Linked DNA regions of Homo sapiens: all the other regions are linked to region 4. Evidence: fine-mapped expression QTL. A gene starts in region 4. Each other region holds a variant in brackets. All regions are shown on one strand. Distances are between the middles of the regions.

What was found.
Region 1: its variant is fine-mapped to the expression of PSTPIP1 in tibial nerve (GTEx, PIP above 0.99). The same link has a PIP of 0.9 or more in whole blood.
Region 2: its variant is fine-mapped to the expression of PSTPIP1 in whole blood (TOPMed, PIP above 0.99).
Region 3: its variant is fine-mapped to the expression of PSTPIP1 in whole blood (TOPMed, PIP above 0.99).
Region 5: its variant is fine-mapped to the expression of PSTPIP1 in whole blood (TOPMed, PIP above 0.99).
Region 6: its variant is fine-mapped to the expression of PSTPIP1 in whole blood (INTERVAL, PIP above 0.99).
Region 7: its variant is fine-mapped to the expression of PSTPIP1 in whole blood (TOPMed, PIP above 0.99).

The regions. Positions count from the first base shown.
Region 1 is chr15:77,027,953-77,032,016 of GRCh38, reverse strand. PSTPIP1 (proline-serine-threonine phosphatase interacting protein 1) reads right to left here. Exons shown (of 15, transcript NM_003978.5): 7 at 3,365-3,463; 8 at 2,443-2,488; 9 at 1,436-1,515; 10 at 739-837. Among named protein-coding and RNA genes, the nearest start is that of PSTPIP1, 35 kb to the right of the region's middle. The variant G/A (reference allele first, on the strand shown) is at 2,329.
Region 2 is chr15:76,972,653-76,976,716 of GRCh38, reverse strand. It overlaps LOC105370904 (a long non-coding RNA gene), which reads right to left and starts at 3,813. Exons shown (of 3, transcript XR_932492.2): 1 at 3,749-3,813; 2 at 2,786-2,962. The variant T/C (reference allele first, on the strand shown) is at 2,282.
Region 3 is chr15:77,017,427-77,021,490 of GRCh38, reverse strand. PSTPIP1 (proline-serine-threonine phosphatase interacting protein 1) reads right to left here. Exons shown (of 15, transcript NM_003978.5): 2 at 3,243-3,343; 3 at 2,960-3,034. Among named protein-coding and RNA genes, the nearest start is that of PSTPIP1, 24 kb to the right of the region's middle. RefSeq lists enhancers at 1,501-1,630, 1,820-2,392. The variant C/T (reference allele first, on the strand shown) is at 2,193.
Region 4 is chr15:76,992,870-76,996,933 of GRCh38, reverse strand. It overlaps PSTPIP1 (proline-serine-threonine phosphatase interacting protein 1), which reads right to left and starts at 1,808. Exons shown (of 15, transcript NM_003978.5): 1 at 1,325-1,808. The coding sequence starts at 1,360. RefSeq lists a silencer at 1,624-1,813 and an enhancer at 2,054-2,103.
Region 5 is chr15:77,085,827-77,089,890 of GRCh38, reverse strand. No RefSeq gene overlaps it. Among named protein-coding and RNA genes, the nearest start is that of TSPAN3, 17 kb to the right of the region's middle. The variant C/A (reference allele first, on the strand shown) is at 2,057.
Region 6 is chr15:77,377,263-77,381,326 of GRCh38, reverse strand. All of the region lies in intron 1 of PEAK1 (pseudopodium enriched atypical kinase 1), which reads left to right. Among named protein-coding and RNA genes, the nearest start is that of PEAK1, 41 kb to the left of the region's middle. The variant C/G (reference allele first, on the strand shown) is at 1,986.
Region 7 is chr15:77,529,417-77,533,480 of GRCh38, reverse strand. LOC101929457 (a long non-coding RNA gene) reads right to left here. Exons shown (of 2, transcript NR_135692.1): 2 at 1-2,378. Among named protein-coding and RNA genes, the nearest start is that of LINGO1, 100 kb to the left of the region's middle. RefSeq lists enhancers at 2,279-3,122, 3,123-3,964, 3,965-4,064. The variant C/A (reference allele first, on the strand shown) is at 1,561.

The DNA.
Region 1 (4,064 bases), 35 kb before region 4:
TTGCCCAAGGTCACAGCGAGAATGCAGCACAGCCAGGCCTTGGGGCTAGGAGAGTGGGTCCAGAGCTCGCCCTTCTACCTCAAGGAGGCGAGGAGGCAGCAGGGGGCTCGAGTCACTTGGGCAAAAACAACAAGAAAATCAACCCCCACAGCCCCGGACAGGAGCGTCAGGCAGGAAACACAGCAGGCAAGGGGGCCAGGGCTGCCCGGGAGAGCCGTGTGCTGGGCTGCATCCATCCACAGAGCTCAGGGACCCTGGCTGGGGGCCCTCTCTGCTGGGGAGGACCCACCCAGCAGGTTGGGCTCAGTAAGGGGAACCAGGACACCCTGGAGATGTGGGGAGCAGAGGAAGGACTGCGCCTCGGCTCCTGCAAGCACCAGGCCTAGAGCAGAGCAGCCACGGTCCTCCAGCTTCTGCCAACCTCTGACAGCTGTGTCCACCTCCCCTCCCATCCCCGGCAGAGGGGGCAGGTGCTCTGTGGCTCTGAGGCATAAGGAGGAAGTCAGGGGAACCACAGAGTCATCATCTTCCAGGCAGAGAAGCCATGGCCCTGTGTGGTACTGAGCTCCTGTCTTGGGGTTCTGGGGGCAAAGGCTGAGCTGCTGAGGCCTGAGACCCCTGGGGCCAGGCTTGGATCACAGAGGACCAGGTGCTTGTTGACCGGCTCAGATGGACCTGGGTGCTTTGCTGCCTAGAGGCTGCCCTACCTTACCCCACACCAAGGCCCTCAGCCCCCACCTCATCATCCTTGACACACTGCATGGAGAGCTGGTTGCTGTGCACCCACAGGGCGTTGCGGAGAATGGTCAGCCGGTCAAACTCTTGCAGCTGAAAGGCCTGGGGGCAGTGGGAGGGAGGTGAGCAGTGAGGAGGCGGCTGCAGGGCCCGGCCAGGCTGGGCCCCATTCACAGCTCAGCCGGAGCTGACCAGGCCAGCCCTCTCTGCTGGAAGCCCAGTCCAAAGGAGAGAGTGCCCTGGGGTCCCCATCCCGACTCCGGGCCAGCCCTGAGGCTGCAGGGAGGGAGGTGGAGATGCCCAGGGGGTCCCTGCCCCAGCCTCCCTTCAGGCTGCACCACACCGAGGCAGAAGGGTAGTGAGAGGGACCTCGGACGGGAGTCCTGAGCCCTGTTCCCCAGGCCCTGTCCATCGGCAGCACCCAGAGAGGCTGTGGGTTTAGTCCAAGTCCCAGTTTTGGCTTCAACAAAGAGGGTGGAAGAATGCCTGCCTGCAACGAAGGGGCCCAGGACTCAAGGCCAGGCGACAAGCAACAGGGCCAGGGCCCAGCACAGGCCTGTGAGCAGGAGGCTGAATAAACGAGTGAGTAACAGGTACCTTCCCCAACTGCCTCACTTGGGCCCCTTTAAGCAGCTGGAGTAGGGATGGGCGTCTCACACTTCCCAGCTGGGGAAAACGAGGCTCCACGTGGGCCACTCACCTCACAGGTGGTCCGGTGCTCCTGCTCCCACTCAGCCCGGACCTTCTCCAGCTGCGCAATGCTCTGCCTGTATACCCGCTCTGAAAGCGCAGGCAGCCTCAGGGAGGGCCCTGACACGAGCTCCTCCACCCCTGTACTCCAGCAGGTCCCATCCTGGATGCCTCCTCCCACTGGGAGCCCCGCCTCCCCCATGGGACCTGCCCTAGCAGATGGCGGGGCCTCATCTGAATGCCCGTCAGGGCCACCCACGCTGGTGCTGCTGCTGCTCCCCAACTGTGCTCTGAGCTGCCTGAGGGCTGGAGTGGAGCCTCATATATGCAAGTCCAGAGTATTGGCCTCTGGGCATCTCTGGGCGCCCCACCTCACTTTCCAGAGGGGAAACTGAGGTTCAGAGAAGGCAGCTGAGAGGGCGCTGGAGGAGGGGTGGAGTCCCACAGGCTTGGGTCACAACTTCTGTGCCCAGATCTCTGGAGGTCACCTGTCCCCCAGCCGAGGGAGTAGCTGAGTCCCAGTAAAGGCAGAGCAGAAGGGAGAGGCCTTCCCAGGGGAAGGGAGGAGGGTGGGTGCTGTGTCTGGTGGGTGGGGCACCAGCAGGGACAAGAGTGTTGGTAGGATTCGGGCATCAAGTGAAGGACAGAGGCCCAGAGAAGGCTATGTGCACAAGTCCTGGGCTCTGAAGCCCGATGGCCTGGGTTCAAATGCAGCTGTAACCTGGGGCAAGTACTGGACCTTTTAGTGCCTCTGTTTCCTCATCTGTTAAGAAAGGGAACAGTAACAGCAGCCACCTCGGAGGGCAGCTGTGAGGACTGAACACATGAAGCGCCAAGAAGGGCTGGCGAATGGGGGAACACAGCGTTTACTTTGACGGCACATATCTGGAATGAGAGCGCCGC[G/A]CCCATGATTGTGCAGCCAGGGGGAGTGTGTGTGTCCCCAGGGTGAGGAGGTGTGTGTGGGGAGTACCGCCCAGGCCTCCGCCCTGGTCGGACGGGGCAGCCAGGCCCACATACCTGCCTCGGTGGCCGAGTCCTTGCACTGCCTGGCTTTGTTCTGACTCTGAGGAAACAGAGGGGAAGCAGCGCTAAGCCCCTGCCCCAGGAGCCAGGGCCCACCCCAGCAGACCTGAAGTGACTGTCAAGCTTCCCCGGCCACCCTGGGGGGAACATTCAGGAGCCAACTATGGGCAGATGCCATCATCCACAAGCAACCTCCGCCCACAGAGGACCACAGGCTAGCTCCATGGAAAGAGAACGAAGACAGGAACCGAGCCCAGGAGGATGCCTGTGAAGAGTGAGACCACAACCCACAGGAGAGGTGCAACTACTGCTGAGCCCCCTGGCTGGGACTTGGGCTCTGGCCCCTGACTGACTGCCCCCAGCTCACCCTCAGGCCACTTCCCTCTCTGGGCCTCAGCCTTCCTGTCTGTGCAATGAGTGATGTGTTTCCTGGGCTCTGGGAGCTCTGATACCCCCACTCTGGCCTAGGGGCCACAGCATCAGGAGCATGGGCTCTAGACCACCTGAGTTGGGGGTCCCTTTTCTGCTGCTTCCTGGCTCTGAGACCTTAGACAAGTCACTTACTGTGAGCCTCAGTTTCCTCTCTGTGACATGGGCCTACTGAGCCCTTCTCCAAGGTTGTGTGAGGGTTGGCGTCTGCTCTCATCACCCTGTGGGCCTCAGTGGGCCTGCACCGAGGAATGGGTCCCTGAGTGCCGCCTGACGGTGGCAAAGGGGATCCAGCTGACCTGCCTGTCCATGGCCTGAGGTTCTCTCCAGGAAACCCATTTCACAGATGGGGAGATTGGGGGTCAGAGAGGGCTAAGCAGCATCCCCAGATGCAGATCTTGCCTGGGGGTGTCTACGGCACCCCTTCCTTGCCTCCCCCACTGCCCCCAGCCCTGGGCGACCCACACGGCCCAGCAGCCCAGCGCACCTTCTCCACCTGCTTCTGGTGGCCGTTGGCGCTAATGCGCTCGAAGGCCTGCTCCGCGTCGTCCGCGTCCCGGCACTTCTGCTCGTATGTCTTCTTGGACTGGGGGTGTGGAGGGGCGTGACTTGGGGGCTGCACAGCCCTGTTCTGTGGTCCCCGGGAGTGAGGCTCCCTTAGCCCAGCCTCCCTTTTTCCCTGGCGAGGGTTGCGGGTGGAGTGGGGGCATCCTCACCAGGGACAGGGATCTGGGGGTCCGGAAGGAGATAGAGAAGGCGTGGGGGCTGCTGGTAGTCCTGCTCTCAGGCCCTCCCCACTGAGGACAGCGCGGCCTGCCCCGGGCCCCGCCTCCTGGGCTGTGCTCTTCGGCGAGGGCACGCCCCTCGCCACGCCCCTCGCCACGCCGCGCCCTCTTAGGAGCCCCTCTCCCTTCCTGTCCAGCGTCTCGCAGGATCAAGCTCAGGGGTCCCTCCTCCCTCCACCCCTGGAGTCCCCAGCTGACTTCATCTGCCCTTCATTCACGAGCCCCACAAGGGAAGGGCCCGGGACCATCCCCACGGGGCCATAGCGCCCAGCACGGGCCCAAGCGCCCCGCAGGCTGGTGCGCCCAAGGCCGAGGTCCGAGGACCAAGGCTGAGGTCAGCCTGTTCCAAATGCCCTGCCCGGGGCCACAGCCCAGGATCGCACCCTGAGACCTGCGCTGCTC
Region 2 (4,064 bases), 20 kb after region 4:
GTCTCTCTCTCTCTTTCTCCACTGGACTGTGAGCATTTAGGGTGGGGAGCAGTTGGGTTTTAGTTCTCTTTGATAGAGCAGCATCCAGGACAGAATCTGTCCCTGAGTGGATGCTTAATCCACATCTGTGGAATGAATGAGCAGATGAATGAAAGGAAAGGACGGGAAGGCTGGACCAGATCCCAAGCCACTCACTTCCTTGAAATCAGAGTTCCCCCAACCCAAACCCCACTAGGATTCTCTCCTAAAGCCTTTGGCAGTTTTGTTGCCTGAGAAACAAGAAGGCCCTTCTCAGCAGTTCCCCCATCATCCTATGCCTAGGGACTTGGGGCTGGAGGCCTGAACAGCCACTCAGGAGCAAGCTCTTCATCTATCATTTCCTCTAATCTTCATAGCAATAAAATATCAGAATTGTGATTCCTCATTAACATTTGCAGAAACTAAGCCTCAGGGCTTGAAATTTGCTCAAGCTCTTATAGCTAGTAAGTGGCAGAATTCAAATCTCCCTGTCTCCAAAATCCATATTCTTAGAGACAAGACTGCAAAAGTGACCTTGGACAAGCCCCTTCTCCTGCGTGAACCTTGGTTTCCCCTCTGGGTAATGAGGCTGCGGGTCCTCAGAGGGCTCAGCTATCCATTTCCACTCAGATAGTCCACCATAATAAAATGTCCCAACTCATCCTTCCCCAGCTTCCCTGCGTTACTGGAAGCAGCCTGTAACCTACCGGAATGTAGGACTGCAAGCTTGCCAAGCGAGGCCATGTTCACCTGGCTGGAGAAGAGCTCCTGTTTCTCCTCAATGCTGGCAGAAAGCCCTGGGAGCATAAGAGCACCTTATCTGCAACTCACCTAAACAGGTGTGTATGGGGTTGCTGGCCATTGCCTCACATCCCCCCCGCCTTAACCCCCTGGGTTGCCATCTGAGGGTTGTGGAGGGGCTTCATGCTGGCTTTGCTCAGGTCTTATGGCCAAGAGGCACCAAGAAACACAATATCTCCCCCTGCCCCAGTACACACCCCACCCTCAGGGAAAACCCTTATAATAACAGCCCGCACCTGCAGTCTCCCACCTTAGCCTAGTAAGGTAACCAAGACACGGATGGCAGCCGCATGTTATAGCTGGGGATCCTGGGGCTCAGAAAAAGACAGTAATGTTCCAGAGACTATCCAGCAGTTAAGTGGCAGAGCTGAGACTGAGTTCCAGCCCCCAGGCCAGTATTTAGTGCTTTCCTTCCAGAGCCCATGTTAGTCCAGGTCATGTAGCACATTTATTGACCCCTGCCACAGGCAGGGAACCATGAGGCCAAGGAATGGGCAAGATGCAGCCTCTGCCATTGAAGGGTTACAGTTCAGAGGAGCAGAAGGATAAGGTCTCATTCAGGAGTTAATAAATGAAGATTAATAAGATTACAAAACAAGTGGATGAGGTGTCAGAGCAGGGGGGGTCCTAGTGCTGCCCAGGAATGGCGGGCACAGAGTGGGAGCCTGCAGAGCCTGCTGAATGCAAGGCTGGCTGACTGAATAAGGGGCTGTTTCACTACCCAGAGGGATGCAGGAGGGTGGCAGGGAGGGGGGTTGAAGGAGAGAAAGATAACTGAGCAGAGGTGTGGCAGAGGGATGAGGACCCACAGTTTGACATACGTGCAGGATGCACCTCTGAAAGGATAAATAAAGCTGTAAAAATTCAGTAAGGCCACATTTTTGTACCACTTTAAATGCCAAGCCAAGTATTTTCAAAGATTCTCTGCAGATGAAGGCTGCTGTTATAAAATATGGTTTAGAAGCATTAATTTGGCAGCAACACAGTAACTAATCAGAGAAACAACGGCAGCCCCTGGTGGATATGTGGGCAGGGTGAGCCGGAGGCAGGGAGGCAAATGAGGATGCTGGAGAGGCTGGGCCAGGGCCAGCCAGGGACAATGGGAAGGGAAGAGCTGGTGGGTGACAGGGGCTGGTGTCTGACATCGCCTTCCTCTGATCCAACAGCTTGGCCTCCCTGCTGGCCAGCCTCAGCCCCACCCCATCAGAGGGTCAGCCCTGACCCAAGAGGAGAATAAGAAGGCAGCCAGCAGCCAGTCTCACAAGCATTGCTGGTGGTCAGCTTCCTCTCTGGATGAAGCACATTAACATGGTGAAGCTCCTGGCATGCCCCCTGGCATACAGGACCACTCAGCCCCTAGACCCGGGCTTATATCTTTCAGACCCATAAGTGCCACTTCATCTGGATGTGGGACTCTTCCTCCAGCCTGCCAGAGCTGGAGTTAGGACCCTGAACCCCAAGC[T/C]GAGCTACATATGGCCCTGATGCCAGGAGCCACCCGGACCTCCTTGTGGGCCTGTGTCTGTCCTCCTCGTTCTTACTGCAGTTAACAATGCTGTATTTGCTTACTTGATTTTTGTCTCTGATATCCTCCAATGTCAGCTCTTCGACACTAAGACCCACACATCACTTGTTCACAATTATATCCTTCAACTAGCATGGTACCTGACACCTACAGATATCAAAAATGGTTGTGGGATGAACGAGTGACTGTTACCCTCATAGTGGGTGCCCTTACCCAGCCAGGGGTCATGCTTATTTCCTAAGGGTCTGCCACCCCCTCCACCTCCACTCTAGGTTGCCTCAGAGGCACTCACACCCCCATGGGGTCTTACTCACCTCCCCACTCTCCTACCCTAATCTCACTGGACTTGTCCCAGGCTGTCCTTAACCATCAGAGTCATGCCATGGGTTAAGGGCCTAAAGGACAAATAAAAGTCCCTCCCCACCCCATCCTCCCACTACTTACTGTGTGGTGGTGTCTATTATACAGAGAAGTCGTGGTTGTGTCTTTCTGAGATAGGGCCATCCTGGGGGCCACCAAGGAAGGCCCCTGCTCCCCTGCTAGAAGGAGGTAGGAAATGGAACTTCTGGGCCAGGCAGGGTAGAGGAGAGCTCAATCCCTCTTGGTCTGCATTTGGAAAATCTGGAAGAATAGAAGAAACTTCTGGAGCCAGGGGAGAAAGATGGCACTGAGATCAAGGCAGGAGACACCCAAGCTCTGCCCCAAAAGAGTTTTCCAGGTTTGGGTGCTGCCGGGAACAATTTCCATTGTTCTTCCCCAAGCCTTTATCTGAATGGTCTTTACCACCCCCACTGGGCTCTGAGCTGTCGCCTGGCAGCTGCCGTTGGTTCAGGCTGATTCTTGGATGCTGGAGGAACAGCGCCTCCTAGAGCCCAGGAAGGTGGAGCAGCAGAAGTCAGCAAAAGCCCCCTAGACCCCCTGTGTCAGGGCTGCTTGAAGAGCCTGGTGTCACAGCCAGTCTGGACATTTCTGAATTTTATTTAGCCCAAGAAGCCTGAGCTTCCTATGGTGGCTTCAGTCCAGCAGTTAGTGATGCTGTTCCCCTCAGACCCACCCCAGGTGCAGGGGCAGGTGCAGCGATCAAGGAGGCACCACCTCATCCCAGGGTGTCCCTGCTCAAGTCTTCTGCCTGCCCCGCCCTGCCCCAGGCCTCCTCAGTCTTGAGACAAGAGGTGGCTGCTCCCTACCCCGAGCTATGCAGAAGGGGCAAGCTTGGTGTGCAGGACTTTCCAGCGAGTCCTTCGGAGTTGCTGGACCGCTTAACTGGACCTCGAGATAACTTCTCCCAGAGCAGATGGGTGGGGACTGGCGGCTCCTTAGCTGTAACCTTCCTACCCCAAATCCTGTTGTTTCGAGAGTTAATTCTGGAGCCACAGGGAGGATGGGAGGCATTATTGCCCTTCATACCTCCAGAAGTTCTCTTTCAGGCACAGGAAAGGGGTTTTGGCATCTGCCGTGCTTGCAGTTTTCCAGACTGAAACGTCTGTATCAGTCTTATGACTCAGAAATTCTGTTCCTGTGCCTATGAGGAGGGAGCGAGGGGCGGCGGGAGAGTCCGCCGGCCCGGGAGTAGATAAGGAAAGTGGGGTTGCTGCACTGCAAGTACACGCATTATGGATATAATGGATATATCTTAAAATCAAAGTGTTTAATGAGAAAAGTAGGAAACCAAGTGAGATTTTTATAACATAATGCCATTCCTGTAGTTAAAAATACATGCATA
Region 3 (4,064 bases), 25 kb before region 4:
GCCAGGCTGGTCTCGAACTCCTGACCTCAGGTCAGCCTCCCAAAGTGATGGGATTATAGGCGTGAGGCACGGCGCCTGGCCCTAATGCTGTCTTTAAAATGCACTGAAAGCGCTGGTGGGGATCCCTGGAGTTTGGGGACTGGGTCTTACTTGTCCATCCTCCATTGCCACTGCCCCACGGATGTTTGCTGAGTTAACATGTGAAGGAGGTACATGTCAAAAATCACTTAAGATGTAACCTCCTGTTAATTTCAGTGGCCCGAGCCTCCAGGCCTGAGGGTGGCTCCCGGCTGGTTTGAGGTCAGGGGACTGCAGAAATGCAGTACCTTCAGGCAGCAGTTCTGCCCTCAGGGCTCACTAGGCTATTTATAGGGTCACTTAACCACCTGGCTTTTGTCCTCGTTCTGCACCCTGTTCCTAGCCTTCCCATCCCCCAGTCCCCTGCCCGTTCTGCAAGGGGCAGGGAATGAGCATCCCATAGACCTGGGGGGCAGCTGTGGGCCTCAGGGAGGCCAGGGGCTTCCCCTACTCAGGGATGGGCCCTGGAGGGTGGGCCACCAGCCCCGATGTTGAAGAGCCGGGTCACCTTTCCTGAGGGCCAACACACACACCCCCCCCCCCCACAGGAGTCTAAGATGAGGAAACAGGTCCACGGCCACTGCTCACACTTCCCCACCAAAAGCCCTTCAGGTTGGCATGGGGAGGGGTAATTGGGTCTAAGCCAAGACTCTGACAGTAAGGCAAGGCAAGGTGTCTGGGAGGGCTTCCTGGAGGAGGTGGCGCATAAATGGGCCCTAATGCAAAGGACTAGGAAGGAGAAGGAAGTCACCCTCACTGTGCTGGACTCTGGCTAAGGAATGGCAAAGCCCTTTATTTTATTTTAAATTAGTGAATCCTCCTGACCCATCCAGGGCATGGCACATAGTAGGTCCTCAATTAAATGGTGACTAAATGGATGGAGGATGGATGCTTGGCCTACACCGAAAGGAACAGCTGCATGGCCTCATCAACAGTACTTCATGCCACATGGGTCAAGAGCAACACTATGGAGCCCCACTGTGTGCAGTGAACCCCTGTGGCTTGGCACTCTCTGCTTGTCCTTGTGACTGCCCAGAACACCTCTCCAAGTGACCATCCCCTTCCATAGGTACAGACCCTGGACTCAGAGACAGGGAGGACCATCCAGGGCCACACAAAGGATAAGTCAGGGCAGACCCTGCCCCACCTGGCCTTGAATAACCATGGCGCAATCAGGGCCGCCCAGAGCCTCCACCTGGCCCCTTCCTAGTTCTACAAATGGAGCAAGATGTTGCGTACCTCCTGCTTCCTGAGGCCCACCCTGCTCCCCACCCCCATTGTATTTTCTGTGGGTAGCTTCTCTTTCCCTGCTGTAAATCCCCTGTGACTCACAATCCCCTGAGCCTGCATCACACAGACCCACTCCAGCCTGGCTCCCATTGTGCCCTGCTGGGGCCACCCTCTCCACCTCTCCTGAGTCTCTGAGTTCTCCCCATGAGGTACCCTCTCTTTCTGGGAAAGTTCTCTTCCAGCTGGCCTGGAGGCTGGGAGGCCAGGAGACCAGGAGGGGCTCCCCTGGTCATGCTGCCAGGCCCCCACAGCTGCTCCTCCCCTGGCTGAGAGCTCTGGGCACTGCTTCCTGCAGAAAACACCTCCCTGCATACGTCCATTCACTCCTCACCATGTCCTGAGCCCTCCTCTGTGCCCAGCCTGCACCCGGCCCTCAGCCCTTCCCTTGGGAGGCCCTCAGACCATGTTCTTGTTGATTTGCACGGCAGCTCGCTGGAGTGGGAGGTGAGAAACAAACTTGGAGAGGCTAGGCGACTGGCCCACAGTCCCACAGCTCAGATTGGCCGAGCCGGGACCAGAGCTCCAAGGGCTCCTCAGAGCCCTCCGTCCTCCCAGGGCTGTGTGCAACTTTCTGGCCTCACACACGGCTCATGCCACATCTAAGCCTTCCTGTGATCTCTGGCTCCTGGTTGGAAGCAGGAGCCGCCAGGGTGCCTGGTGTCTTTGGGGGACCTTCAGAGTATGGCACATTCAGTTCCTCTCTCGGGGGAGAAGGCAGGAAGGGAAGGGGTTCCACAGCAGCTGCAGGGTCAGGCTCAGGGCCCCTCGGCAGGAGGACTCTGCAGAGCCCTTTCAAGAAGTTGGAGGCCGGTGGTCTGTCTGCC[C/T]CTTGGCCTGGCTCTGTCCTCACCCAGGGGGACAGTCTGGGCCTTCCCAGAGCAGCCCCTCCACTCCACTGTTAGGGTGGCTGTGTCCTGAACTCACCTTCATCTCCTCACCTGGCCTCCCACCCCAGCAGTCTGCGTGCAGAGACCTGTGGGGCTGGAGACTCCCGCTTCATCAGAGCCACTTCCCTGACGGCCTGCCCTCTAACCAGGCCTCAGCTAAGCCCATGGGCCCACTTCTTCCTTTGAGGAGGGCTGCGTTACTTTCCCATCACTGATGAGGAAACGGAGCCACAGAGTGTGTCAGCAGCCAGCCCATGGTCAGACAGCTGGGGGGTGAGGAGCTGACACCGGAACCCAGGTGTGTCCCCTCCTGGACCCCTGTCTCTGGCTACATCTCCATCCTTGAAGCCCATGCTGAGCCAGTGCTGCAGGGGACTTGAGCCACCAGTGGAGACGCCTGTCACCTGCCCCTCAGGACTTCAGTGGAGGCCACCCAGGCTGGTGCAGACTGCGCTGCAAATGACTGAGGATGGATGGCCTCCTGTCTCCCCTGCCCAGACCCTTTCCAGAACTCAGACCCTCGGGCTTCCTCCCTCACAGAACCTGGCCTCACCCTGAATGCCCAATAACCAGGCACCAAGGAGCAATCCAGACCTACCCTGGTTCTGCCCAGCCTCCCCCATGCCAGGAAGACCTAAACCTCATCTAAAGGCCCAGAAACTGCCAGCAGAGGAGAGGAGTGAGCCCCAGGGCCCGGGAGATCTTACTTGATCTCCGTCTGGCCACCTGCCTTCCGTGCGATCTGCACCAGCTCCTTCCCGTACCGCTCCTCCGCCTGGGCCCTGCAAAAAAAAGGGCATTTGAAAGATCATCAGTGACTTGCCACCTCTGGGGGAGGCCCAGGTTTGAGGGAACACAGAAGAGTTTTTTAAAGCAGGGCGTGTTCTGACAGAGTTTGGCTGGGATGGGGGCCTCGTCCACTGTCCCAGGAGCCGAGCGGAAGCCACCTGCTTCCTGCCTGCGCTCCCCATGGCCTGCCCAGCAGCTCACCTCTGCCTCAGTAGCTCCTCCATGTCTTTGCACATCTTCCTGCCATCCAGAAGCCGCTGCAGCAGCACCTCGTAGCCCGTGTGGGCTGTGAAGTCCCTGCACTGTGACACAGGACAGAAGGACACATGAGGGCCACGACCAGGCGACACTGAGCACAGCCCTGTGGGGACCCTCCCACCATCTCTGGGAACAGCCTCCCTCCTGCCTCCATCTCCCCTGCTCAGGGCAAGCTCTTGGGACTCCAGACCTGGCTTTACACAGGCACACAGGAGGTCCCCTCACATCTGCAGAGGTGACAGGTACATAAGTGAGCCCCACCCAGCTGACAGGGCCGGGGGTGCCGGGCCTGGCATCTGGAGAGCTCACAGGACAGGACACACATCAGCATGAGATAGCAGATGGGAAGAGCCACCCTTAAGTCCCCCTGATGACAGCCAGGCCTGAAATTCACTCACTCACAGTGCCACCCTTCCAATATCCCTATCTCAGCTAAGTGGGGAAACCGAGGTGTAGGAGGGTGACATGTGATCGTATCCAGAGCGGCCCAGCTGGAAAGTGGCTGGCCTGGCCTTGAACCCCAGGCTGTCTGGCTGGGGTCCCTGCCCTTCACCTCAGCACTGTGCAGTCTCCATGACCATCACAGCAATTGCGGTTTCTTGGGCACCAGCCATGTGCCAGATGCTGCGCTGGGCTCTCTGTGGGCTCAGGAAACCCCCCCTCACGGAGATCCAGGGAGGTGGGCATGGAGGGTGACTTCAGTCCAGGTCAGAGCATGCGCAAGCACACCCTACATTCACCTCTGGACTGGGGTGGGGTGGGGAG
Region 4 (4,064 bases):
CCCCTTCCCCCAACTTTGCACACCAAGGCAGGGCAGCTAGGTGGTGACTCACATCCCCCATCCCCCAGGGCTCCAGCTGCCAGCCTGGGCCCTGAGCATCCTGGTGCCTGGTCCTCCGGATGGGCTGAGGCAGCTCTGCCTCCATTGGCTTCTCTGGGCTGGGCCCACCCTGTCTTTGTAGAGATGGGGAAACTGAGGCCCAGAAAGGCACAAGGTGCCCTCCCCACGTGGGGTCCTTTGCCTACTGTACAGTCAGAGCAGAGGAAGCAGAACACTCACACGCTGGCCACAGGCCCCAAGTGGAGCCGGCCGGAAGGGAAGGAAGGCCTGGCTCCATAGCTCTCATCCTCCTGGCTGCAGCCCCAGGAAAAGGCCCGGGGAGGGCAGGGCTGTTGGCTGGGGCTCAGCCGGCTGAGCCGAGGGCCAGAGCGTCCTCTTCGGGGTTGGAGGCAGCACCCCGGGACAGCCACATTCCCCAGCTCCAACCAGAGAGGTCTCAGTTTTTCCCCAGAGCCCTGGGCACAGCCAGAGCTGAGGGGCAGAGGGGTAGTTGAAGGACAGCTGGAAAAGTGCTGAGATGACCAGGGGTCCAAGCTGGGCTGCAGGCTACGTGGCCCGGGCCAAGCCACTTTACCTCTACCACTGGCTGGGCGCCCTTATTTCATGGGGGAAATGACTTGATTTAAGCCCGTGTTGAATTTAAGAAAGTAAGCAAGCCATTGCCCACCTGGCTGCCTCCTTGAAGGACCCCTAAGGTCTGCAAGGGACAAGGGGCTGGGTGAGGGGAACAGAATTACCATTTGGAGTGAGGCAAGGTGCTGGGGGCTTTAGTGCCTTGGATCCCCTTGCTGATCCAATGCTTTAGTTGGTGTGTTGATTTCTATTTTATCACCATTATATAGATGGAGAGACTGAGGCTTGGAGACAGAAATGACTTGCCCAGCCTGTAACAGAGCCAAGACCTGAACTCAAGTTTGTCTGGTCTCTAAATCTGTGACCCCTCCTTTGCTGCCCCACACATCCTCCTCAAGCCCCCACCCATGTGTTACCCTCTTCTGAGGAGCTCCTGCTGTGGGGAGAGGTCTCCCAGAGGAGAAAACACACGGGGCAGCAGAGAGGAGGACGCTCATTCACGGAGTCCACTTGCGTTCCAGTCCAGAAGGGGTGGGGGCCTGGGCCACCTCCATGACAATTAAGACCAAGAATCAACCACTATTTTATGAGAAAGCTCCCCTCTCGGAGCCGCATCCCATCACCTGCATGGAGATTTCAGCCTAGCTCTGCCCCCTCCACTTGTTCAGTGCCCCCAACCATCCTCACTCACCCAAAAGGCATCTTTGAACTGCAGCTGGGGCATCATCCTCAGGCGTCTGCCGCGGCAAAGCTCACTCTCCTGCCACAGGCTGGCCTGATGGAGGGCCAGGCGCCAGCAGCAGCGTCCCAGTCCTGGCAGGGCTGGCCCAGGCCCCCCTTCCCGGCCGGCGCCGTCTGCAACACTCAGAAGGCAGCCACGAGCCAGAGAGGAGCTTCTGAGGGGAGGAAAAAGCTCAACCTGTTTTGTTTGGGGCTAGAATCAGCAGCAAAATGAGGAAGGAGTGGAGCTCAGTGATGGGAGGGCGGGCCCTGGTGTCCAGCCCAGCCCCTCACCGACCCTGCGGTGATGGAGGACACAGTCTGGGACCCAGGGCAGGGAGCAGGGATGCCAGCCCTGGGTGGGAGGCAGTGGCCAGTGGAAGAGGCAGGCTGGAGCTCGGGCCGGGCCAGGCAGGCAGGCAGGCAGGCAGCCCGAGGCCTGCGCAGGAAGGTTTGTGCAACCTCCCCCGGGGCAGGCACAGGGCCCTCGCCCACAGGAAGTGGAGTTGCTGTGCTCCCCTGTGCAGCCCCGCCTGCCACCTGCCATCCTGCTCCTGCCTCTGCTTGCCCCCTCCCGAGGTGCGGGCTCACTTTATTCCAGAGGCCATATGCTAAGGGAGCTTGAGGCCCACTGACAGTGTGGCCAGGAGGGGCCCAGGAACCCCAGGTGTGTCACCCGCCAGCCAGTCCAGCACCCTTCCAGGCTGGGCCCAGAGATGCCAGACTCCCCACCCCGCACTAGCAAGTCATTCTGGAGGGGCTTACCCAGGTCTAGGGCATCTGTCATTCATCAAACCCTGGCTGCTCTGGGACCCAAACCAGGTCCTGCCCTCAAGGAGCCCATAGTCTGGGAGCAGACACAGCTGTGCTCTGGGGGGCTGTGAGCACACAGAGGCAAGGTGAGCAGGCAGCAAGATGAGGGAGAACAGCCTGAGGCCCCGGCACTGCCCCCACCACCACCACCGCCACCACCGCAAGTCTCCAGATTAGACGCTGTTTGGGGCAGAGAACCCCCTTCTGAAGATGGAGGCTTCCGGCTCAGTGAATGGGAATGGATGGAGAGAGAAACAGGATTATCAAGGCACAGAGTGGGGTGTTTGGAAACCCAGTCTGAGGCCCAGTTTTTGTTTAATTTTGACCCCACCTTTCAGGGGCTGAGGGACCTTAATAGACCCCCCAACTCGCTGAGCCTCAGCTTCCTCATCTGCCACACCCAGTCTTTGGAAAGTAGACGGTGTCGAGAATATTTCTGGAATTTCCAGTTTGGTGGGCAGGTGCTGGGGGCACTGTGTGGTACCACCTTAGGAAGAGCCCTGGACTAGAGCCCCAGCCCCAGCCCTGAGACGCCACGCCCTGCCGGCTCAGCAGAAGATGCAGCAGGAAGTCCTGAGCCCAGGGCAGGCTGGCAAAATGGGGTGAGTCAGGGATTGTCCGCAAATCACCACCCTCACTGATGTCTGCCTTACAGCTGACGGGGTGATAAGATGAGAGCTGCTGCAGATGAAATAGTTGAGCTCCCAAGTGCCCATTATGCATGCCCAGGGTTTAGAGAGAGGGGGCACACCCAGGCTCTGAAATAGCCACCCAAGAGGAAACACTTTGGGGAGGATTGCAGAGCAATGGGACTGCCCCCAGAAGGCCCTCACCTCCAGAAACCTTGGATTTGAGCTAATCTTTAATCTGTAAGGCGCCCCAGTCAGGTTTTTTGTTACTTGCAGCTGAAGACAATTAATAGTGTAAAAATCCCCTTGAACTTTGTAGGCCATAGAGTGAGCCAGGCTGCACCTCACCTCCCAATGGCACCACCACCTCTGATAGCACTGGCTCAGCCTCCCTGAGCTCAGTTTCTCCATCCATCAGATGGGATGATGCCTCTAGGTCTGGAGCAGACTAGAGACCCTCTGTTAACAGAAGGCTCCTGCCTGCTTATTGGCAGAAATTTTTACAGCTGGGCTCCCTGCCCTGCCTCTCTAGGTGTCCTTCCCATCACCTCCCAGAGACTTCTGCTCCAGCCAGGCCTCTTCCCTCTCCCTGGAGGCACCTTTCCCACTCCCACCTGCTCTGTTCCCAGCCTCCCTTCTGGCAAGCCTTCCTTGATCTTCCTTACCTGGGCAAATCCTCCCACCCTCAAAGCCAACCTCAAGGCTCCCACACATGAGGCCTTCCTTTCCCAACTGTACCTGTCCAGCCAGGGCAGCCCCGGATGGAGGGCCATGCTGGTGACGGGCTGGAGCAACTGGGGAAGGAAGTAATGTGAGGAACCTCTGGAGAGACTCTGCAATTCTCTACTAGAGAGGCCTTCCTCCTCCCCTCCCTTCCACCCTTACCTGTTGCAGGTCCCCAGGCTGGGCGACCAGACAGCCAATTCGGCTTTGGAGTACTTACCCAGCACCGGGTACATCATTCTGCTTTTCACACGGACCACCTCAGTTACACTGTCATTATCCCCACTTTACAGAGGGGCAAACTAGTGATTAAAGAGTGTAAGTAACGCACCCAAGTAGCAGGCAATAAGCAGAAGGCTGGGCTTTGGTCCTAGATCTGTCCGAAGCCAAAGCACACGCTCTTAACTTCCACAGTTGTCTTTTACTAACAGCCCTCTATTCAAAAAGCGTTTCATTGTTCCTTTCTCCAGTTCTACCTCGAGACCCTCTCACCCAAGTCAATAAAAGGAAAAACAATCTAGGGAAGCCACCGGGGCTGATGGTGCC
Region 5 (4,064 bases), 93 kb before region 4:
TGAATTTGGGACACTGTCCACCAGCGTTTGGTATGTGAGCACAACCAGCAACCAATTTATACTGATCACAGCAATCTTGGCACCAAAGCATGGATGTGGGAATGGTGCCCTTCACTAATAACACCTTTTCAATAAATGCGCTTCTTGTTCCCACAGCTCTGCGCTTGTTGGTTTACAGGTTTTGATATCCAAAGGAGTAAAGCTTCAATGTGAGTAAAACACAATGGCTGCCTAAACAGGAAGTTAATACTGACAGCCCACCACTACGGGCTCTCCATGGTACTGGACAAACAGGCCCAAAGAGAGGTCAAGGCTTTGGCTTCAATGACTGATTTAGACCCGTGCTGCCCAATACTGTGGCCACTAGCCACACGTGGCTATTATATTTAAATTATCTTGAATTAAACAAAATCAGAAGTTCAGTTCCTTAGACACACTAGACACCTTTCAAGTGATCTGTATCCGCATGTGGCTCCTGGCTACCATATTAGCCAGAGCAGCTATGGAACATTTCCATCCCTGCAGAAAGTTCTATTGGACAGCATTGATTTAGACTATCAAAGGTAATGGGGAGGTCACTGCGATGGGGGCATGAAGAAGTGAGGTTGACCTCCAGGATCCCTCTGTCCTGTCTGCTCATCCTCCTACAATGCTCATCCTCATACAGTGGTCAACATGGAAGAAGGTACAACAAACCTATTTAGGCAAGGGCACCAGGGCTTAGCCCCCTTGGGAATAATGGTCTAGGTCACCCTACCAGTAAAGAATGCCTGCCACCCAAGGTGTGGGTGGAGGACACAGGAAACATGGAATAAATGAGGAGGGAGGTCACACATCCTAACCACAACCATACAGAGCCTGTATGTTCTTCCTTGCTGTGCCATGGGTATATTTATATATTTTAATAAATGTATTTTGTCTTTCCCTTTAATCCACTATTGTATACATTGTTGCAGAATATTGAGACAGGAGTGGGACAGAATTAGAGAAGGAATGGATCTCACCCAGAACTACTGGACTTGGAGTTGTACAGAATAACCATTATTAGGCTGTTCTTGCACTGCTACAAAGAAATACCTGAGAGTGGGAAATTTATAAAGAAAAGAGGTTTAATTGGCTCGTGGTTCTGCAAGCTGTACAAGAAGCATAACACTGACGTCTGCTTCTGGGGAGGCCTCAGGGAGCTTTTGCTCATGGTGGAAGCAAAGGGGGAACAAGCATCTCACATGGCAAGAACCAACAACCAGATCTCCCAAGAACTCACTGTCTCGAGGACAGCACCAAGCCATGGGGGATCTGCCCCCTGATCCAAACACCTCCCACCAGGCCCCACCTCCAGCACTGGGAATTACATTCGACATGAGATTTGGAGGGAACATGCAATGCAAGCTATATCAGTAACTGAGAAAAGAAGTGAAGATATTTTCAGATGTTAGGCTGCACCTTCTGAGGGAGGAGTGCTAAGTCACAGAAAGAAGGCAGAACTGTAATAAAACCTTGGTTATTTTGCCTGCCGAGAGTTTGATTCTCCCAGTAGCCTTCCCATGTTAGTTTAAGTAGAGTTGATTTCTGCTGTTTGCGAACCAAACCTCTGACTGATCCAGAAGTCTAAATGTTGGTAAAGAATAGACCACATGGCTATTTGCAGATAACATGTTTGTCTTCCCAATCAACAGGAAAAAAAAAATAGAAATCATTAAGGAATTTACTGTGGTGCAAAAAAATAATAATAAATGTTGGAGGTGATGGATATGCTAACTACCCTGATTTGGTCATCACACAATGTGTGCGTGTATGGAAACATCACACTGTACCCCACAAATATGTACAATTACTATGTGTCAATATTTTTAAAAGTCAAGAATTTACTGTGGTGGCCAGATACAAGATTGCTTTCTTGTTTATCAGATTTATTCTGAAAGAAAATCTAATTTTTAAAACCTATTTTGGGCCAGGCACGGTAGCTCACACCTGTAATCCCAGCATTCTGGGAGGCTGAGCCGGGTGGATCACCTGAGGTCAGGAGTTTGAGACCAGCCTGGCCAACATGAAGAAA[C/A]CCCATCTCTACTAAAAATACAAAAATTAGCCGGGCATGGTGGCATGCACCTGTAATCCCAGCTACTCGAAAGGCTGAGGCAGGAGAATCGCTGGAACTCGGGAGGCAGAGGTTGCAGTGAGCTGAGGTCACACCATTGCACTCCAGCCTAGGCAACAAGAGCAAAACTGTGTCTCCAAAAAACAAAACCAAAAAAAACAAAAAAAACTATTTTCAATGTAAAATAAAACCAGACCCAGAAAGGCCTTAAATGCCCAACTGTTTTGTCTTGGAGGAGCTGAGCAGCCAGAGAAGGTGTGAGAGCAGCGAGGCCAGTGTTAGGAAGCCTGGTTGCAGAAGTGTGCAGGAGGGTGGGACCTCCCAAGGCCAGGCTCATTCCTCCGGGGAGGTGCCTGCTGCTGTCCCCTGTGCAGGGGCCTGGGGCTGGGCATGGCTCAGATCCATGGCAGTGCCAGCTGCAGTGCACTCTGGTAAGAGATGGGGGTGTCTCACCCACTGGAGCCAAAGGAGAGAGCAGGAGGGCCTGGGGTATTGGAAGGGTCTCTTGTGGAGTGTGAATCACTGCAGCCCCTCAGGCCACAGCAGATGCAAGTTTTGTGGTCCCTAACTTTGTACAATTTGGAGGCCTTCCTTAAGGAAAATAATAAAAATCATAAAGACAAAATTAACAGCTGGGCACGGTGGCTCAAACGCCTCTAATCCCAGCACTTTGGGAGGTCGGGCAGGTGGATCATTTGAGGCCAGGAGTTTGAGACCAACCTGGTCAACATGGTGAAACCCTGTCACTACTAAAAATACAAAAATTAGCTGGGCGTGGTGGTGCATGCCTGTAATCCCAGCTACTTGGGAGCCTGAGGCACAAGAATCGTGCTTGAACCCTGGGAGACCGAGGTTGCAGTGAGCTGAGATCACATCACTGCACTCCAGCCTGGGCGACAGAGTGAGATCCTGTCTAAAAAAATAAAAAAAATAATAAAAAAAGACACTATTAGGTACAGACATGAATAGTTACTTGAAATGAGAAAATAAAACAACCTACAAATCAGAAAAGTTGACACTACAAATATTATAAAATCCCCCCAATAGCAGTATATTTTTTATTCAGTGCTTAATAAACATTTATAATATCTTTTTTCCCTTCATTTTTGCTACATATCTTTTGGCTGCTTTTTCATATGACAGTACTTTCGTGCTGCCATTTTCTATTAAGAGAATGGAAAGATAATTCACTGCTTGCCGTGGTATGGTTGACTAATTTGTTATTTTATTAGTGATAGTTTACAAAAATCTATTTTGGCTTCATGACTTACTGGTAAAGTCGTGTACATTTTTAGGATTGTTGTCAAGTTGAGGGAAACCTTTATCAAATTTCTTTTATAAATGAGCTGTAAGATTTCAGGGTTTTCAAGTTTTCTTGTGTTGCGGACCAATCTTAAATACTCTGAATTGATGGTGCTCGTTAAGGAGAGCAATTCAGATGCATTCTTAAATTGCTACTACATTGCTTTGAGCTACATAATTGTGTAATAAAATTACTCTTATGTCACATACACTGTACTTATTGATGAGCACATGTAGGAGTTTTGTCACAGGAACACTTGTTTCTTCAGGCTGTCTTGCTGTGTTGGTGGCAATTTCATGTGCCATTTCATCCGGAACTGCCAGACCTTATCAGGACAAGATCCATCAGTTGCACCAAGATGTGATTCCATATACTGGAGTGCATAAAACATCTATCTTCACACACAAAAGTACTTGTTGCTTGTAGAACTGCTGTAACACTCAAGCACTCACTATAAGCAGTGATTTTTTTTTTCTTCTTTTCTTTTTTTTTTTTTTTTGAGACAGGCACTCTCTCTGTTGTCCAGACTGGAGTGCAGTGGTGCTATCATGGCTCACCACAGCCTTGACGGTCAGGCTCAAGCGATCCTCCTACCTCAGCTTCCCACATAGCTGGGACCACAGGCATGCACCACCACACCTGGCTAATTTTTGTATTTTTTGTAGA
Region 6 (4,064 bases), 380 kb before region 4:
GCTTTCGCCTCAGTCTCCCACGTAACTTGAACTACAAGTACACATCACTGCATCTGGCCATTGCTGTATTCTTTAAGGATCAATTATGTCATGTTGAGTTGGTTTCCTTGCTTCCATTGTCTCCCAACTGTAGTCCTAGATTAGCTTTTTAGGTTATTAATCTTAAAACATGATTTTTAGCATGTTACTCCATTATTTAAAACTCCATAGTAGCATTTTGCTGTTTGGGTTCCACAGAGCCTCTGGGATATTCTCTGTGAAGAGGGAGAGCAGGGTTTGGGAAGTGCTGGGGAGCCAAGGCTGACCTAATAAGGCAAATCATATTATTAGCTCATATTGTCTAAATAAAACTTATTTTACCTGGCAGTTATGCTTCACTCTGAAATTACCTGACAAATAAGTCCCTCCTAAAAGATTGTGTATTAAATGTAGATAGTTTTGGGTTGATGAAAGTGGCATACCAGGGTTTCCAGCAACACTTACTCTGCCATTTGGGAGAGAGGGGGATGCTTGTCAAGCAAATAGTTGTTGCATAATAACTGATTTTTGGCCAGTCATGGTGGCTCACTTCTGTAGTCCCTGCAATTTGGGAGGCTGAGGTGGATGGATCACTTGAGCCCAGGAGTTTGAAACCAGCCTGGGCAACACAGTGAAACCCCATCTCTACACTAAGTACAAAAATTAACTGGGCATAGTGTTGCATGCCTGTGGTCCCAGCTACTTGGGAGGCTGAGGTGGGAGGATCACTTGAGCCTGGGAGGTCGAGGCTGCAGTGAGCTGTGATCGTGCCATTGCATTCTAGGCTGGGTAGCAGAGTAAGAACCTGTCTCAAAAAATTCAAAAAACTGATTTTCTCATATCTCTTTGACAGTGGACCACGTACATAATAAGCAGAAAGAGGAATAAAAAGGGATCTTGCCTTTAAAGATCAGTTATGTCCAGCCTTCCAAAACTGCACTGATCAGTACCACCAGAGTACTCAGAGAGTTGCTGTTTTTGCTGAAAGGGTGATTCTAATTATCTGGCAGATTTTCAGGTACGCCAGTGGCATGACCTAACCATCGGCCTGTATTATTACATAACCAGCGTGTATTATTGATTACCAGGGCAGGTCATGCTATTGACCGATTCTAGCTCCCAGGCCAGTATTGATTTGCTTTTGGTGGAAGAAAAGGAATGAAAATATTCTTGAAAATCAATATGTCAAAGAATATAACAAAGACCAATGGAGCTAAAAAAACAAGATAAAACAAAGCTGAGTTTATTTATTTGCCAGGTAAGGAAATATAGTAAGGATTTTACATTTGCCAGGTAAAGAAATATAGTAAAGAAATTCAGTGAGTAATTGTTGAGGAAGAAAAGTCTGGATTTTAGTACTAGAAAAGAGCAGTGGTTAGGGTAGGTTTGGAGTAGTTATCCAAATTAAGTATTGAAAACCAGCATTTTGGATAGGATGGCATGAATTCATAGATCTGTATATGATTGGTTGAAATAAGTCCCATTCTAGTGAAACAGCATTTAGTCTTGGTATCTTGTAGGCAAGTCCTGCTGTAAACGGAAAAGTTTCCTGTTACAAGAGTTTCTGGCCCGTTTTCTAAAGCTAATTAGATCTCTTATGAAGGTCCTGGACCTAACCAATCCTCTTAAGGGTCCCTATTGGTGTATTCTATGTTGGATGGGCCCTTGGGTTGGCAGTGAACAGTTCTTACTCTAGATATACACTTCTAGAATATTTGCAGCAAACCCCTGAATCTCTATATATTGGATTTCGGGAACCCTAGCCTAGTATGTCCAGCTAGAAAATGGCTTCCCTCCATGTATACCGTTCTTCCCAGAGGGTATAGAATTGTAAGTATGAGGGTGTTTGATAAGTGTTATTTTTGTTACATTGTATTCAACTTAGGATTTGTATATATTTCTAGATAGTTTCTTTAAAGACTTAAAGTCTCATTTTATTCTTCAATGAGCTCTTCAAAAGTGACTCA[C/G]ATTCTCTTACGACTTTTTAGTTCAATAGAGAATGCTAATTCAGGTTCCTCTTAGAAGGACTGCTAGATAATTTTGCTCCTTATGGGAAGGTCTTGCTGTGGACATCCCCAGATTTTTGAGTTTCTATTTGAAATATATGGTATTCAACTACTTTTATTTCATTGGAGAAAATGTATAACTTCAGATTTTCAGCACTATTTGTAGGTTGCCTTTTTCTTCTTTCTTGTTACCTAAGTGAACACATTTATTACCAATATAACTTGTAATCCCACTGGAGAGGATTGCAGTGCTTTTAGGCAATCTCATTTCAGCAGATATAGCTCTTTAAAAACAAACCAGTTAAAGACAGTCTCAGCTGAACTACAGTTGTTTCTTGTAGACCAAGGAAATATAGGGGTGGCGAGCAAAATCCTCGGACTTACACAGTCCATCTCAACAAACATGTTTGTGCTTGGCTAAAGACATGGTGATTACTTCTTTTCTATAAATGATATATGAATGAATCCAACACAATTCTTGGTAGCAGAGATTGAGGGCCTTTTTGTAGTTTGACTCAGATTTCGTCTTCAGGATTATTTAATAACACTTCAAAGGTATTGTGATTTATTTGCTTTCCAGTTGAGTTTTTGACATGTCTATTTTCTGAAGCCAAAGAGAATTGACAATGTGATTTTTAAAAGGATTTATTTCAGCATATAAGTATGCAATGGTATTGACCTTCCAAAAACCACTAAGACATAAAATGTTATAAAGTTTTAGTATATAGTAAAGAGTGTGTTAGTATGTCAGCAAAGGGAAATATTTTATTTTCCAATACCTTTAAAATGGAACAAATAACAAACTCTAATTAAATATAATTTGTAATATGTAAATAATACCGTGAAGTAGCAAGATTCCTGGCAGTTAGACTATTGAATTCCGTACTCTGTAAGAAGCACGAATTTTTGACGATCATTTCATTTTGCTTTTGCTTATGACTTCCACTGCCCATGTATGTCAAAGAGAGAGAGATGATCTTTCAATAGTTTACTAAAGAAATGAGATGCTTCGTAAAATTGTCATGTGGTTGGCCTTTTTACAGGTGAAATAAGAATTACAAAATGCTTGCTTGCTTTATTTTTATGGGATTATGTATATATATATATATATATAATATTGTTATACAGAGTCAGTGCAGTCCTTAGAAACTTACAGTTTTAGGAAATGTGATAGTCAGGCATAGTTTTCTTTTTAAACTCATGTGTAAAATAATAGCATATTCAAATGATAGGCTAGTTGTTTTGTATGAAGAGGAGAGATCACTCTTGGTCTCAACTTGCCCAGTCTCATAGGCGTTGTTGCACTGGAAGAAAATATACCACATGTGGTTTTTACATGTCCAAGCTCAGTAAGTTTTATTAGGTGAAGTAAAGGAGTTGGGCTCTAAGGTGATTTTTGAATCAGCAGGTGATACAGTAGATGAGATTCAGGAAGTTATTCCAGGCACTAACCAGGTAAGAGTTGTAAATACAGTTATGCATGGAATGACAAAGTTTTGGTCAACGAGGACCACATAAGAGTATAACATTGTTGGCCTGGCATGGTGGCTCACGCCTGTAATCCCAGCACTTTGGGAGGCCAAAGTGGGCGGATCACCTGAGGTCAAGAGCTTGAGACTAGCCTGGCCAACATGGTAAAACCCCATCTCTACTAAAAATACAAAAATTAGCCGGATGTGATGGTGCACACCTGTAGTCCCAGCTACTTGGAAGGCTGAGGCAGGAGAATCGCTTGAACCTGGGAGGTGGAGGTTGCAGTGAGCTGGAGGTTGCAGTGAGCTGAGATCGTGCCATTGTACTCCAGCCTGGGCAACAGAGTGAGACTCCATCTCAAAAAAAAAAAAAAGAGTATATATAACATTGTATTTTTCCCATACCTTGTCTATGTTTATCTGTAATTGTGTTTTACTTTATTTTTTGAGACAGAGTCTCACTCTGTTCCCCAGGCTGGAATGCAGTGGCTCAATCACTGCCCACTGCAGACTCCACCTTTCTGGCTTAAGCAATCCTCCCACCTCAGCCTCCTGAGCAGCTGGGACC
Region 7 (4,064 bases), 540 kb before region 4:
CATTGCTGTCTTCATTGATTTGCTATTTTGCAGGCCTTCTTGGGTAGGGGTCCTTGTTGAGGTTGGGGCTGCTGAGCAAGGCTGGCCCCCTCCACCAAGACTCTCCCCTGCACCCTTTGGAAGGCTCTGCTCTGCCTTGGGGATTTGCCTCACTCACTTTCCCCCCACAGCCTTTCTCTCCTGCATCAAGTCATTCTTTGCTCCTGCAGAAATGTCAACCTTTCACTCAACCTCAAGCATCTCCTTATCCTAGAGAATGGCTCAGATTATGGCTCAAGGACATCAGAAGTGAGAGGATCGAAAGGCTGGGACACCAAGGCTCAGAGGCGGCAAGGGCACAGGGAATACTATTCTTCTGGAACAGTCCCTGGACTGTGGGTATGAATAGGTGCTGCCTACCCACAACCTCCCCATCCTCCCCGCCTCAGCCAACCTCAGCCAGGTCTAAGTGGCACCTGTCCAGGTTTGACAGAGGTGATGCCCAGGTAGTAAGGGACAGAGTCGCAGCCAGAATTCCTCCCTCGTTGAGAGCAAGGCTCCTAATCTCGCTGAGCCTCCATTCTCAAAAACGGATATACACTTCTGAACACCAACAACAAACAAAAATTGTGGGCATACTGTTATTTACACCCCAAAATATTTGAGAGCTTAAATGAGATAATCCATGAAAACTGTGTAGCATAATGCTGGTCCCTAGTAAGTGCTCCAAAATGTTAGCTATTATTATTCCTTTGTTATGATGATAATTATTACTGCCCTGGGTGCTTCCAGTGGGAACTATATCTCCCTGTAGGTCTGTGTCTCCCAAGCTGTCTGGCACAGAATTCTGTAGACAGTAGCTGCTCAATATTGAGTTAAATAGTTAAGAATTTTCCATCCATTGGGACAAGACATGGGCTCTGGAGGTAATCAGAGTAGATTCAAATCCTGGTTTTGACTTCTTTGCTCTGTGTGCTCCGTGACCTCTCCAAGCCTCAATTTCTTCATCTGTGAAATGGGTGAATAATCCTTTCCCTGCCTTCTTTCAGGACGGATGCATGAACCAGAGCTGGAGAAAACTTTCTTAAACTACACTCTTCCTTATTCCTCCTGCCTGTCTCATCAAACTGGGTCTTTCTCAGGGACCCTATGTACCTGAGTCCCAGGAGGGTCCTAAGAGAGGCAGGGCTGGGGACAGCTCCCACCATCTGCCCCTGACTCCCCCATCTCCAACCCAATCATGAGCTGTGTGCTGCCCTCCAGGGCCCAGCTGCTGAAAGTGGACCCGTGGACAAGATCATGGCAATGGCCATCCTGGTATCACACAGGATGTTGGAGCTAGAGATCTGATAATGTGGCCAGAGAGAATGAACATGTGGAATCCAGCAACAGAGATCAAGGCCAGCCCCAGCCATAGTGACAGCACCACTGGATAATGACTGCCTCATCCACGGGGTTCTGAGCGATGGGGTTTTTGCCTCTGGATGTGGATGTGTGCTTCTCTTTGGGGAGAAGGTCCATAGTTTTCACCATCTTCTTAAAGGACTTCCAGACCCTCAAACTGTTCAGAACCAGGAGCTC[C/A]GTTCTCCACCCAGGATCTGCCTCCCAGCCACACCCACGTCCTTACTGACAGGGAGAAGAGGCAGGCAGAGGGTGCGCACGAACCTGAAAGCTCCACTGTCCGGACCCCGGACGGGCCTCAGACAGGACAGTGAGCTCCCCGGAGACACACAGAGAACCGTGGTGAAACCCTCCAGCACGGTGCCTTCCTCATGCCAGGCATGAGGCGGTTTAAAGCCGAGTGTTCAGTAAAGGGCTGACTGAATTGTCACACCCTGGGACGAGCTCCCGGTTGCCTCTGGGCTGAGCAGCCACCCTGCTGACCTCCAAGGTCCCTGCCCACTCTGCTGTTCTCTGCTCCTTCATTAGGGAGGGCCAAGGACAGTCTGGTGGTTTGAAGCAGAGGAGTGAAAGTCATTCCTTCCCGTTGACCCAGCAACGTCTGGATCAGGTGAACTTTTCCAGAGGGCTCGCCATGTCCCTGGCATAGTGCTGCCTGCCCGTGGGGCTGAACCTGCTTCATCCTCCATTTTAGAGATGGAGAAAGCGAGCCTCAGAGAGGCCAAGTGAGTCCATCAAACATTGAGGTCACATGGCCAGTACGTAGGGGCTGGATGGGGCAGAGCGCCGCGAGGCAGTCCTGCAGGGATGCCATCTGCCAAACCCTTTCCTGGAACTCCTCTCTTTTCATTCTGTGGGCCTGCAAGAGAGGCCGGGCAGGGGCGCTGTTAGGAAGCTGAGGCGGCAAGAGTTAGAGTGACCTGCTCAAGGTCACACAGCGAAGATAGGGCAGAGGTGAGGCTCCAACCTAGGTCTTCCAACGCCCCATTCTCTGGTCCCTAAAGAGACAAATGTTACAGATACTTTGCTTTAAGATGTACTGAAACCCATCCACTCATCTGCTCACTCATTCCGCAGGTGTTTCTCAGGGACCTACACTGTGTTTGGGCACTGTGCTAAGTACTGGGGAGGGTTTCAATGTTATCAAAGCAAACAACAATGCCTGCCCTCCTAGAGTTTATATTCTAATGCAGGAGAAGGAGAAACAACATAAGTAAGTTAATTACAAAGTGCCAGAAGGCAATACATCTGTGGAATGCAACAGAGCAGGGTCAGGACATGGGGAGGGCCAGGCGGAGGCGGTTTAAAGTCGAATGTTCAGGGCAGGTCTGGTGAGAAGATGAACATCAGGCTGGGTGCAGCAGCACATGCCTGTAATTCCAGCACATTCCACCCTCCTTGCCTTGGGAGGCCAAGGGGGGTGGATCACGCGGTCAGGAGTTTGAGACCAGCCTGTCCAACATGGTGAAACCCCATCTCTACTAAAAATACAAACATTAGCCAGGCGTGGTGGCATGCGCCTGTAATCTCAGCTACTAGGGAGGCTGAGGCAGGAGAATTGCTTGAACCCGGGTGGCAGAGGTTGCAGTGAGCCGAGATCGCACCACTGCACTCCAGCCTGGGCGACAGAGTGAGACTCCATCTCAGAAAAAAAAAGAAAAAAAAAGGATGAACATCAAGCAGAGACTTGAAGGAGCTGGGGAAATGAGCCAGCCATGTGGACCCAATGGGAGGAGTCTGTCAGCAGAGGAGCCGCCTGTGCGAAGGGCCTGAGGTAGCAGTGGGCCTGGGGTGCTTGTGGACAGCAGGGAGCCTGGTGTGGCTGGAGCAGAGGAATGGGAGAAGAGTGGGAGGCGATGATGGGGGAAAGGTGGAGAGAGAGGAACAGATCATGCCTTGGCATTAAAATTGCCCATGGGCAGATGGGCCTTCCTGGGCAAATCTGAAGGTCTCACAAATGATGGAGTCACATGGGGCTCATCACAACCAGAAGCAGAGTGGGAGTGGGGGCATCCAGCCCTCTCACCTCCCCTGGGAGGAGTCTTCTTCCTCCACCTCTCCTACCCTCACCCTGTGCCACCCCATGCTGCCCCTACCCCACCTCATGCTTGTGGTGTGTCCCCAGGGAGACTGGGCCAGGCTGGGTGAAGGAGGAAGGTCCATAGCCTTCCCCAGCCTAGGAGTCTGCTAGCTGCTAGTCTGAGTGAGCTTTGAACCTGCCAGGCCCTGCAGGGGCACTAGAAACCATTAGCAGGCAAACAAAAGGCCTGGGGAGGCCTATGAAGCCACCATGGAAGCCTACAGCTAGGTTTATTTCGAATTGAATAAAGAGCCCTGAAGCCCAGCCATAACCACCCGCTACTCTCCACACCCCTCCCAGACTCCTGACCTGAGGAAAGGCAGGCCCAAGGGCTTGTCCATGGCCACACAGCAACCGAGGCCAAAGCCCCGGTCATCTCCAGAGGGGAGAAGCTTTCTGTGCCCATGAGTGCAGGGCAAGCCACGGCCCAGAGAAGGCCACCACAGGTGAGGCCCACACCGGGCACGATGTGCAGAGTGGGTAGGTGGACACTGAGAACCCTTCGGGTGAGGCCCGAGCCAGTGAGTTCAGGGGCTGAGGGTCTCCTCATCTGTTTACTCGCTGTGTGACCCTAGAGAAGTGTCTTAACCTTCCTGAGCCCAAC